Regions from separate parts of the Homo sapiens genome. Here all the other regions are linked to region 2. The links come from fine-mapping of genetic effects on gene expression. A gene starts in region 2. Each other region holds a variant in brackets. All regions are shown on one strand. Distances are from middle to middle. Region 1 overlaps CARINH (colitis associated IRF1 antisense regulator of intestinal homeostasis). Region 2 holds the start of MIR3936HG (MIR3936 host gene). Region 3 has its middle 18 kb from the start of IRF1.

Evidence for each region.
Region 1: its variant is fine-mapped to the expression of MIR3936HG in Th2 cells (Schmiedel 2018, PIP 0.95).
Region 3: its variant is fine-mapped to the expression of MIR3936HG in whole blood (TOPMed, PIP 0.97).

What each region holds. Positions count from the first base shown.
Region 1 is chr5:132,459,859-132,464,100 of GRCh38, forward strand. All of the region lies in intron 3 of CARINH (colitis associated IRF1 antisense regulator of intestinal homeostasis), which reads left to right. Among named protein-coding and RNA genes, the nearest start is that of IRF1, 29 kb to the right of the region's middle. RefSeq lists an enhancer at 4,118-4,242. The variant A/G (reference allele first, on the strand shown) is at 1,997.
Region 2 is chr5:132,367,616-132,371,857 of GRCh38, forward strand. MIR3936HG (MIR3936 host gene) reads right to left here and starts at 2,301. Exons shown (of 8, transcript NR_110997.1): 1 at 2,229-2,301. It overlaps SLC22A5 (solute carrier family 22 member 5), which reads left to right and starts at 2,095. Exons shown (of 10, transcript NM_003060.4): 1 at 2,095-2,750. The coding sequence starts at 2,358. RefSeq lists a silencer at 1,978-2,297.
Region 3 is chr5:132,506,502-132,510,743 of GRCh38, forward strand. No RefSeq gene overlaps it. Among named protein-coding and RNA genes, the nearest start is that of IRF1, 18 kb to the left of the region's middle. The variant T/G (reference allele first, on the strand shown) is at 1,826.

The sequences.
Region 1 (4,242 bases), 92 kb after region 2:
GTTGCAAGGGGCTCTGTGTAGTGAGTCTGGAGTTGGACCACTGGCCAGGCGCTGGGATGCTAGTGCCTGGACTGAGTGTGCACAGAGGCCCCTCAGGCAGAGCCACAGTGGGCGCTGAACCTCCTGGTGAAGTTCACCGCAGTAACTAGAGCTCAGTGGGAGGGGCTGGCCTATCAGCACCTGTCCTGTGTGCTTTTTGAAAAGAGCAGGGTCTACCTTCTGTCAACTGAAGTCCTGCCAGCTGCATGGCATGAGATGAGGGACAAAGTGGCACGTGAACAAAGTTGACATTTTGGAGGCTGTTAGGCTCAGAGCCAACCCTGGGCTCCATGTAGTGCCATGACTCATGGATTCAGGCCCATCTTGGAAATTGCTCTGGGCGTAGAGCTCTCATTTCTGATAGTCCAAGTGCAGATATTGGGGTTCCTCTAATTGGCCCAAATGGTGGCCTGCACCAACCAGCGACCAGAGTGCTGTCTGAATCTAGAATAACAGGAAGAACACGCCTCCAGCAGTGTAGGAGAGTTCCCCATGCAGTGTGCTTCCCATTCTTACCAGCAGTTGGTATCTTCTGTCTTTTTCACACTGGCCATCTGAGTCTCATAAGGAGACTCCTCTCCTTCCACTGAGCCTGCATCCCAGCCTCTCCCCTTTCTTCAGGGACCTCTCCCCAGCAATTACGCCCTTCCATTCTCTCAACCAGGGAATCTTCAAACTCTTCTTCTCCACTGGCTCCTGCTGTGCTCCTGTCTCCATCACCTGTATAATGCTTCCTGCCATCCTGCCTTCCCCGTGGAGTACAGCCATGCTGTCTGCTGCTTACAGCCAAGATTCTGGAAAGAAATGTCTCCTTTTTCCTCGTCATCAACCACTCATTTATTCAGCAAGTGTTTCTTTTACACTTGCCTGTGCTGGGCATGGCAGCAATGCAGCAGTGAACAAAACCATCAGCCCTGCTCTCATGCAGCTTATAATCAAGTAGAGAGACAGACATAAATGATTAATAGATGCTCCTGTAATGGTGGTTGTGAGGTGTGCTGCCACAGCCCAGCCACACACGCCAGTTCCCTTCTCTGCACATGTACATGTCTGCTCATCCTTCCCACCTGAACTCATGTGCCACCTCACTTATGCCCCTTCCCAATGCCGCACCCACACAACAGGGTGTCCCTCTGTGCCCACAGCAGCCCTTGGGTATAACTGTTCCCCACAGAGGCTGAACCCCAAGGGCAGAGTCCAGGCCACACTCACCACGGAGACCCCTGCCTGGCACAGAGCCCAGCCCAGCAGAGATGCTCAGAAGATGAATGAAAGTCCCTGCTGAGATTGATCCAATCTGTTTGTGAACATCTCTGGGGTCCAAGAATTCACGGCTTTCTTTTTCTTTAGAGAGCCTTTTGTTTCTTTTTGCCATTATATACTATATTTGGGTTAGGGCACAACAATGTGAATATACTTAATACTGAACTCTACACTTGAAAATGGTTAAGATGGTAAAGTTTTAAGTTATATGTATTTTGCCACAATTTTTTAAAATGCAGAGCATAGGTACAAAGAAGGAAAAAAAGGGGGCAAGGTCCATTTTATTGAGAAATAAAGAACAAAGGGTTCAATTCAGAGAGGATTGGATTTTAAAACGTAATTTAGATTAGGGAAATGCAAATGAAAACCATAATAAGTAAGATACCACTTCACATCTGTTAGGATGGCTATTTTAAAACAACAAAAACAACCTGAAAATAAGTGTTGGCAAGGATGTGAAGAAATAGATACCCTTGTGCATTGCTATTGGGAACGTAAAATCATGCAGCCTTTGTTGAAAACAATGTGGTGGTTCCTCAAAAACTTAGTTATCATATGATCCCGCAGTTCCACTTCTAGGAATATACCCAAAAGAATTGAAAGCAGGGACTCAAAGTGATATTTGTACACCAGTGTTTGTAGCAGTATTATTCACAATAGCCAAAAGGTGGAAACAACCCAGATGTCCATGACA[A/G]GAGGAGTGGATAAACAAAATATGGTGAATATGTACAATGGAACATAATTCAGCTTTAAAAAGGAATGAAATTCTGGTACATGTTATAACATAGATGAACCTTAAAAACATTATGCTAAGTGAAATAAGCCAGACACAGAAGGAAAAATACCAGATGATCCCACTTATATGAGGTACCTAGAATAGTGAAATTCATAGAGACAGAAAGTAGAAGGATGGTTGCCAGGGGCTGGAAGGAGGAAGAACAGGGAGATACTGCTTAGTGGATGCAGAGTTTATGTTGAGGGTGATGAAAAAGTTCTGGAGATGGATGGTGGTGATGGCTGCACAACAGTGAGAATGTACTTCATACTATGGAACTCTGCACTTAAAAATGGTTAAAATGGATGTAGACATTTTATGTCTATTTTGCCATAACAAGAAAGTAATTTGGGTGTATTTTAGAGATTTTAGAAAATACTGTAAGCACAAGAGGAAAAAAATTAAAATCATTCGCAATCACCAGGTAGAGACAACGACTGTTGAAAGATCAGTGTGTATCTTTTCATTCTCGTTCTCTCTCTCAAAAAAGTGTGTGTGTGTGTGTGTGTGTGTCTTCAGATGTCACACTGGACTTTCAGGAAAGGTTCCCCTCTCTGCTGCTTCCCTGCTGGAGCCATGGAGAGCAAGTCTATCCCTGTTCCATAGGTCAATCCTTTGAATGATTTCTCATGGCTGAGTTCACTCCCCTGCACCTCCAGGGTTGCACTTCTCTGAAAATACTCATTTATTTTATGTGTCTACTAAAAACATGGCACCCACGACCCAATAATATGTTGGAAGGGGTTGGAGAGAGAAACGCGAGTACCTCTCACACCTTCTCACACACTACACATCTTAGCGATGGCCGAGTGAGCATGTTGGCTCTCTGGACTCCTCAGTCTGTTGGTCTGGGCTGCGCCAGGCTCAGGCTCCCTGCCTCCCCCCCAACCTTGATCCCCTTGCTTCTTGAACCTGATGCTGGGCCTCACATTCTCCGTTGATTCTAGCTCTTAAATCCTGCTTCTCCAGCTTGTCAGGAGGCTGTGCCCTCACACCCCAAAGAGCAGATCTGCCCTCTCCACTGAGAGGGAAGGAGTGAAGGTCCCACAGCCTCTGACCCCTGCTGGGCCCAAGAGAGGAACAGCTGCTTGCTTTATTTCTCGTGGGAGAAGTGTGTCTCCTCTTTGTCTCAGGCACCCCTCTGCCCTGTACAGCAGCAAGTCAGCAGGAATGAGCTGAGCCGCCCAAGTAGTGGCTCCCTCCACTATGGGGGCTCTGTGGTCCTGGGGGCTGTCCTGCCTCCACTGCCATAGGCCTGGCCCCAGAGCATGCTGCAGTGGTCACAACCTGTGGAGGTGCCCCCAGACCCCCATATTTGGGCCCAACTACAGCCTCCTTCCCCAGCTTTGCCACCTGGCTTGGGAGCCAGGGCACCACCAGCTTCACTGGCAGGGAGAGATGAAGAAAGAGGCCATAGCCACGCAAGTGACTGAAGTTCATGTTCGTGCACACCAATTAGAGAGGGACAGCACGTTCATTTACCTCCAAATCCAGCCACAGACACATCGCCCTTTTCTCTTGGCTCTGAGGCCTCCACAGAAGGGTTTTTTAAGGTTGCAGCCAGGACCTTTATAGCCTAGTCCTGAGAAGATTATCTTTTTATTGCAACTTTGATTAATGATTGATCAAAAACTGATACTAGAAACACTGAAGAACAAATTTGCTGTAGACATTAGGAAAGGTCTACATCTGGCAGGCCTGGAGACCTGCCCACCCTCTCCCCCCACGGTCAAACCAGGGCAAAGGTACATTGGAAGACCCAACCCCTACACACTCTTACACGTGCACTCGCACACACACACTGAGGGGAAAGAAATATTTAATTGTCCTTAAATCCTCTTGGATTAGGCTATAAATTGCAAATAAATGGAGCAACAGACAGAGCAAAAGCACATAAGGTCCTTTAATAGAATTTCTCTATCTTATTCTGTTTCTATGAATGCCTGTTACAAATTAGCAGCTTAAAGGGAAACCTGGAGTGTGGGAAAGAGCGACCCTTGTGTGAAGTCCACAGCCGGGGTTTCCTACAGACCTCAGGTCCCAGAGAACATCTAAGATGCCTCCAACACCAGATGGAGGAGGGCAGGAGATGCTGCACAGAGAAGCAGCACTTCCCGAGCATCTGTGGCAGGAAGTGACTTGGAGAGGATGAGGCCGTGCCTCAG
Region 2 (4,242 bases):
AGGAATGTTATCTGATGCCCAACTGATATTTCTCAAATGTTAAAATAAGACTTCTTCATCTTGTTTGGTCTGGACAGAGGTCAACATTCTTCTCATAAAAGCTTTCATTTCTTTTGAAGCATTAAAATAATATTTTAGCACACAAAAAAGGAGTTTATTTTCAAGAAGCTTTGCTTTCTTTTTCAGTTAGTTCTAGATAAGAACTATAACTTCACATAAGATGTTAGAAGGATTTAAGTACATTGCTGAAGGTATAACCATCCATCTTCAGGAAGTAAGAATAGTGAATAGTAAGTATAAAGAAACAAACAAGTCCTGTGATAACATCTTTATCATAATTTTTTTAAGTCTATTATGCTTTATGCAAATGTTTAGATTTCCTTGTTAAAAATCTGCTGGCCAGGTTAGGTTCCCTTTCTGTAGCTTTATTTTCAACTCATAATATAGTGACTATTAAATATTCTTTACTCAACACATTATATTGTAAAAATATACACTTAGTTCTGTTTCTATCACTAAGCCACTACTATTTTAAAAAGGAATATCTTGCATTGTTAAGTTTAGCAGCCCAAATTCTTAAAGGCCTTAGGAATGGTGCTGTCCAATAAGATAACCAATAGCTACATGTGGCTACTGAGCACTTAAAAAATGAGTCTGGCCAGGCATAGTGGCTCACGTCTGTAATTCAGCATTTTGGGAGGCTGAGGTGGGAGGATTGCTTAAACCCAGGAGTCTGAGACCAGCCTGGGCAACACAGGGATGCCTTGTCTCTGTAAAATAAAAAAAATAAAAAAATTAGCTGGGCACGGTGGCATGTGCCTGTAGTCCTAGCTACTCAGCAGGCTGAGGCAGGAGGCCCACTTAAGCTTAGGAGTTCAGGGCTGCGGTGAGCTATGATTGTGCCACTGCACTCTAGCCTGGGTGACACAGTGGGACCGTGTCTCCAATAAATAAATGAATAAATAAATATTAAAAAATAAAAAGTGTGGCTAGTCCAAATTGAAATGTGCTGTAAAATACACACTGGATTCCTTTTTTTTTTTTTTTCAAATCCTGAGAACCTGTGAAACACACTGAATTCTTAAGATTTAGTATGAGGAGGGGAAAAAAAGATCAATGATTTACATATAACAATGTAAAATATCAATAATTTCTATATTGATTATATGATGAAATGATCATGTTCTGGATATACTTGATTAAATATACCATTAAAGTTAATTTCATCTTTTATTTTTACTTTTTAAATATGCAGCATTGCCCAATAAAATACAGGACAACCAGTTACATTTTTATTTTATATATTCCTGCTTGGGACATAATATTTAAAAATTATTCATTCTATATCTGAAATTCAAATTTAACTAGGAGTCCTATATTTTTATTTGCTAAATCTGGCAATTTTATTAATATGGCTACTAGAAAAGTTAACATAACAAATGTAGCTCCTTATCCTATGGAACATTGCTGCTTTAGAATCACCTCGCTGCTTTTTTTTTTTTTCCAGTTAGCTTCTGAATAAACTCTGCACGGAAATAACTAATCTGTGGGGAATATTTAACCCTAGGCTAGGATCGTTAATCGTGAAGTTAAATTTTTACATCTGCATGAACAAAATGGCTTGTTACAGACGAAAATGTGGAAAGGGCATCTGGACTAGAATGAAAAGTCATAGCTCCCAGCCTCTCTACTAGGGTAGTTAACAGTCCCAGGTTCAAAATAATCCCCGTCCCTCTTATAAGATTAGGCGGTGTCAAGAGCAACTATCTGTGAGACCCTGGGCCAGTGACTTTCTCCTTACCTCCGCCCCCAAGTAGGCCTTGCAAAAAGCTGGGAGGGGTGCGTTTTCAACACTGGAGCTTCGCGGCCGCTCTCCCACTCGCTCCCCGCCCGGCGCTAGAGGAGCGAGTTCGGACTCGGACCCCAAGGCCTCGAGTCCCGCTGCCTTCCTAAGCCGAGCCCGGGCTACCTCGGTCGTCCCCAGCAGGCTTGGCTGGCAGAGGCCGGGCCTCGCCAGGTCCCCAGGACAGGCCCCGCCCGGGCCTCAGGTGCACTCCCGGCCCGCCCCGCGCCCTCGCGTCCCGCCCCAGCTCCGCCTTCGCCGGCGCCGCTCTGCCTGCCAGCGGGGCGCGCCTTGCGGCCCAGGCCCGCAACCTTCCCTGGTCGTGCGCCCTATGTAAGGCCAGCCGCGGCAGGACCAAGGCGGCGGTGTCAGCTCGCGAGCCTACCCTCCGCGGACGGTCTTGGGTCGCCTGCTGCCTGGCTTGCCTGGTCGGCGGCGGGTGCCCCGCGCGCACGCGCAAAGCCCGCCGCGTTCCCCGACCCCAGGCCGCGCTCTGTGGGCCTCTGAGGGCGGCATGCGGGACTACGACGAGGTGACCGCCTTCCTGGGCGAGTGGGGGCCCTTCCAGCGCCTCATCTTCTTCCTGCTCAGCGCCAGCATCATCCCCAATGGCTTCACCGGCCTGTCCTCCGTGTTCCTGATAGCGACCCCGGAGCACCGCTGCCGGGTGCCGGACGCCGCGAACCTGAGCAGCGCCTGGCGCAACCACACTGTCCCACTGCGGCTGCGGGACGGCCGCGAGGTGCCCCACAGCTGCCGCCGCTACCGGCTCGCCACCATCGCCAACTTCTCGGCGCTTGGGCTGGAGCCGGGGCGCGACGTGGACCTGGGGCAGCTGGAGCAGGAGAGCTGTCTGGATGGCTGGGAGTTCAGTCAGGACGTCTACCTGTCCACCATTGTGACCGAGGTGGGTGCCGGCCCCTGCTGGGGCTGAGACCAGGGCTCGGAGGACCTGTCGCGGTCCTTGAACCCGAGCTCCTCTCTCCCAGATGCGCACTGGACGCTGTCACTCCCCCTCCCCCAACGGTCAACACCCTAGCGATGGAGACCCTCCAGCCAGGTGGCTTGGGAACGCTTCACGAGGTGACCTCCAGCCACAGTGTGCTCCTCCCTGCACAGGTGGTCAGTCTGGCCTCCCGTCCTGATGGCCACTTTGAAGAGGGTACCAGGAAGGTCCTGGCGGTCCCTGGGCGATGCTCTATGGCCCTGTGTGTCCAGGACTTACTCTAGTTGGGGTTGGGGGTGGTAAGTAGCAGAGCCAGGACTTGGGCCAGGGGCTATCCCGTTTTTCCTCTAGTCTCTTGATTTCTTTTTAGAAGAGAAGAAATACTTCTCTTTCCTGAACTTTTAAAAGTTAAATAAAGCATGTGTATACAACTGCCTCTTCCCTTTTTCCTCTAGTTACTCCTTCCCCTACCGTCCACAACCCAAAAACGACAATCTGGTCATGCCCTGTAAGTAATTGTTTGCCTTTTCCCATGGTCAGTTGTCAGTCTTTTTTTTTTTTGAGACAGAGTCTCCCTCTGTCACCAGGCTGGAGCGCAGTCGTGTGTTCTTGGCTCACTGCAACCTTCGCAGTCGTGCGTTCTTGGCTCACTGCAATCTTCGCCTTCCGGGCTCAAGTGATTCTCCTGCCTCAGTCTCCGAGTAGCTGTGAGCCACGACGCCCAGCTAATTTTTGTGTTTTTAGTAGAGACGGGGTTTCACCGTGTTGGCCAGGATGGTCTCGATCTCTTGACCTCGTGATCTGCCTGCTTCTGCCTCCAAAGCTGGGATTACAACCGTGAGCCACCACGCCAGGCCGTCAGTTGTCACTCTTTAAGATCCATTCATCTGAAGATGGGTTCAGGGTGACTTGTTGACCTGGAATATTTTCTCAGGTATTATGAGGCAAGGCTGTCGGCCAGATTTAGTTAAAGCATACAGCCTTAGGTCATAGGGTGTAGGGGAGCCTTTCTCATTTCTCATCCCCTTGGATTTTCCCTCTGGGTGGTTTTGTCTGTCCCCTCCGAACCTGTTGGAGCAGTTGTTGGAGCTGGATGTAGGAACATGATGTTAATGATGTATGTGTTTTGTGTCTTTTTTAGACACTGGCACTCTAGCTCCCTGAAGTTTCAGCAGCATTGAGTAAGTAGCCAGTGAATAGCCCTCATTGATAGATAGGCTCACTAAATGTGCAGATGACCAATTCGCAGGTTAGAGAAGGCTTCCCAGAAGAGGAGGCCTCTCCGTGAGCCTAGGGTGTTCAGCTCAGCATAATAGTGAGCTGAAGGCCCCAGTGCAGCAGCAAGAAACCACCCAGCAGGACGGCGGAGTTCACAGAGAGGGGAGAGTTCATAGAGAGGGAGAGTGCCACAGGCCCTGGCACAGCTTCAAGCCCTGCTGGATGTTGGTGCTGA
Region 3 (4,242 bases), 140 kb after region 2:
GTCCAGGATACAAAACCAAAGTATGATCTTCCTGGCCTATGATAGGAAAAATCTCATTTTGCATGGGAAAAGACAATCAAAAGAGACCAATGATGAGATGTTGGAATTAAGTAACAAAGACTTTAAAGTACTACTATGAAAATGCTCCAAGTAAACCCTCTTGGAATGAATGGAAGATGGACAGTCTCAGCAAAGAAATAGGAGATATAAAGAATAGGGAAGTAAAAGTTTTGGAACTTAAAAATATAAGGGCCAGGCATAGTAGTTCATGCTATAATCCCAACACTTTGAGAGGCCAAGGCAGGAGGATAACTTGAGCCCAAGAGTTCGAAGCTAGCCTGGGCCACAAAGTGAGACCCCGTCTCTAAAAAAAATAATAAGTTAGGTGTGTTGGCATGAACCTGTGGTCCTAGCTACTTGGAAGGCTGAGATGGGAGGATAGCTCAAACCTGGGAGTTCGAGGCTGCAGTGAGTCGTGATCACACCACTGCACTACAGCCTGAGTGACAAAGCAAGACCCCGTCTCAATAAATAAATAAATAAATAAATAAATAAATAAAATATAAGAACCAAAATTTCAGTGCTCACTAGGTAACTCAAGAGCAGAATATAAATGAGAGGAAAGAGGAAGCCAGTAACTGGAAGACAGACCAACAGAAATTATCCAAACAGAAAAACAGTGAGAAAAAGATTTTTAAAAAGTGAATAGAACCTCAGAGACTAGTGAGACAATACCAAAGGTCTAATATTTATGTCATTAGAGTTCCAGAAGGAAAGAAGAAAGAGTGCAGTGAAGATAAAAATGTTTGAGGAAATATTGACTAAAAACATCTTCAATTTGGAAAAGGACATAAAACTGAAGAATATATGTACATATATATATATATATATACACACATACATACATATAAGCATACATGTACCATTGCTAGAGAAAAATGACACATCACACATAGGAGAACAATTCAAATGACTTCAGCTTCCTCATGAGGAGAGAGGAAATCTCATCGTAGAGACCAGTAGGAAGTGGAATCACATCTTTAAAATGAAGAAAAAGAACCATCAACCCACCATTCTCTTCACAATTTCAAGAATACTCAATGAAAATATGCTTCAGGAGTGAGAGTGAAATAAAGACGTTTTCAGATGAAGGAAAACTAAGAGAGTTCTTTGACAACAGACCCGTCCTAAAATAATTGCTACAAGAAGTTTTTCAGACAGATGAGAAATGATACCAGAAGTTAACTTGGAATATCAGGAATGAAAAAAAGACCAACAGAAATGGTAAAGATCTGAGGTAATGCAACATTCTGTGCTGCTCTTGAGTTCTTTAAAATACGTTTTATGGTTAAAACAAAAATTATAACATTTTTTGATGGTGTTTTCAATGTTATATGTAGATAGCACATAAGACAACTACAACATAAAGAGGGTAGAATAAAAGAAACTAAAGTTTTACATTACACTTAAAATGGTAAAATATTGATTCTAAGTAGACCATGAAAAGGTAAAGACGTATATTGTAATCCCTGGAGCAACCACTAAAAACAAAAACAAAAACAAACAGAACTATACAAGCAGATAAAGTTAAAAACACAATAAATGTCCTTAAAATGGTAGACACAAATCCAACCATATCAGTAATTCCATTAAATGTAAATGATCTAAGAATGGTATCAGCAAAAATGGAATAGAGAACTCCAAAACTCCTTTTTCCATAAAAAACAGTGAAAAAAACTGGCAAAATCAACTTTATTAGAACTCTGGAGACTAATAAAAAGTTTAATAAATAAAATAAATTCTTTTTTTTAATAAAATAAATTCT[T/G]TTTTTTTTTTTTGAGGGAGAGTCTCATTCTGTTGCTCCGGCTGGAGTGCAGTGGTGTGATCTTGGCTCACTGCAACCCCCACCTCCTGGGTTCAAGCGATTCTCCTGCCTCAGCCTCCTGAGTAGCTGGGATTACAGGTGCCCTCCACCATGCCCAGCTAATTTTTGTATTTTCAGTGGAGGCAGGGTTTCACCATGTTGGCCAGGCTGGTCTTGAACTCTTGACTTCAAATGATCCACCCACCTCAGCCTCCCAAAGTGTTGGGTTTACAGGCATGAGCCACAATGCCCAGCCAATAAATTTTAATCAAGAAGAAAAACGGCTAAATCTCAGTGGGAAAACACTGTGGTGTTTTAACATACCTGGGCTCCATTCTCCTCTTTCCCAGCTTGGTGGCAGCCTTGAAGACAACAGCCTGCATTCTTGATATAGGTTCTTAGTGTTCGAGGGAGCAGAATGGAACTTACTCTCAAAGGATTGTGGTTGCCTGTTTTGACCTGTCTGTTGGTTCCCTGAAGGATGAGCACAAAAGATTTACTTTAATTTCACCTAACTTAGAACTCTCCCAGGGCTGAAGCAGCTACCTGGGGCATTTGGAAAAACAAACAAACCACACACACATGCACAGAGTTAAAAACAAATGCATTCACTAATGGTAACAGTTAGGGAAATAATAGACAAACCAAAAGCTTAAGAAAAAAGGCTGGAGAAGGAAACACTTTAAGAAATAAGGGCTTTAAAAAGCTTTCTGGATATCTAAGAAGGTCACACATATGCTCAGAAAATATCCTAGAAGACTCTACACTCTCACCTCTGACTGACCTCCAGACTCTGCAAGCAGAAAAGGAAGGTTAAGGCAGAGTTGTAAACAGCCTGGCTAAGTGTTAAAAGCCACACCTCAAAACACATACAGAGCTCATCTGAAGATATTGGGAATTTTTTTTTTATGTTGTTCTAGGTATAAAGGAAATTTCAGTCATCACTAGCCAACCACTAGTGGAAAAGTTTAATGGAAAAGTCTTTTCAGTGGCCACACGTGACAAAGAATACAGACTTTAAAAAATTAGTTCAGAAAGGTCACTAAGTAAACAACAACAACAACAACAACAACAAACAAAAACAACTAGCAAACAATGACAACAAACCTGAAAGGGGAGCAGAATGTGATTTCCAGAGTTGTCACATTATAACAGTAAAAATGTCCAGTTTTCAACAAAAAAAATTACATGCCATGAAAAGACAGAAAAAAGTATGGTTCATACGCAGCAAAAATAATTAATAGAAACTGTCCTTGAGGAAGCTCAGGAATTGAACTTAATAGATTAAGATTTTAAATCAAGTATTTTTAAATGTACTGAAAGAGCTAAAAGAAACCATATGCAAAGAACTAAAGGAAAGCATGAAAACAGTGTCTCGCCTAATAGCAGATTTCAGTAAAAGAATAGAAATTATAAAAAAGGACTTAGAAATTTTGAGTTAAGAAGTAAAATAAGTGAAATGAACAATGCACTAGAAGGGGTCAACAGCTATGTGAGTAGGCAAAGAATGAATCAGTGAATTTGAAGACAGGTCAATTGAGATTACCCAGTCTGAGGGACAGAAAAAAGAATGAAGAAAAACAAATAGAGCGTAAGTGGCCTGTGGAATACCACTGATGGTACCAACATATGCATACCAGAAGACCCAGGGGGAGAGGAAAGAAAGAAAGGGGATGAAAGAATATTTGAAGAAATAATGGCTCAAAACTTCTCAAATTTGGTAAAAGTAAAGGATATGAATTTACACATGCAAGAAGCTCAACAAACCCCAAGTAGGATAAACTCAGATATTCATATTGTGATACATTATAATCCAATGGTCAAGATAAATACAAAGAGAGAATCCTGAAAGCAGTCAGAGAGAAGTGATGAGTCATATACAAGGATACTTAATGTGATTAATGGCTAATTTCCCATCAGAAACCACAGAGGCCAAAAGGCAATATGATGACATATTCAAAGAGCTGAAAGAAAAACTGTCAACCAAGAATTCCATATGTGGCAAAACTATTCTTCAAACATGAAGGAGAAGTTAAGACATTCCCAGATAAACAAAAACTAACAGAGTTCTTTGCTAGTATGCCTGTTGTACAAAAGTTGCTAAAGGGAGTCCTTCAGGCTGAAATGAAAGAACACTTGTGATGATTAATTTTATGTGTCAACTTGACTGAGCCACAGGGTGCCTGGATGTTTGGTCAAACATTATTCTGGATGTTTCCGTGAGGATGTTTACAGGTGAAAATAACATTTAAATTGGTACACTGAGTAAAGGAGATTACCCTCCCTAATATGGGTGGGCCTCATTCAATCAGTTAAAGGCCTAAATAGAACAAAATGACTGACCCTTCCCCAAGTAAAAGAGAGTTTCTCCTGCCTGC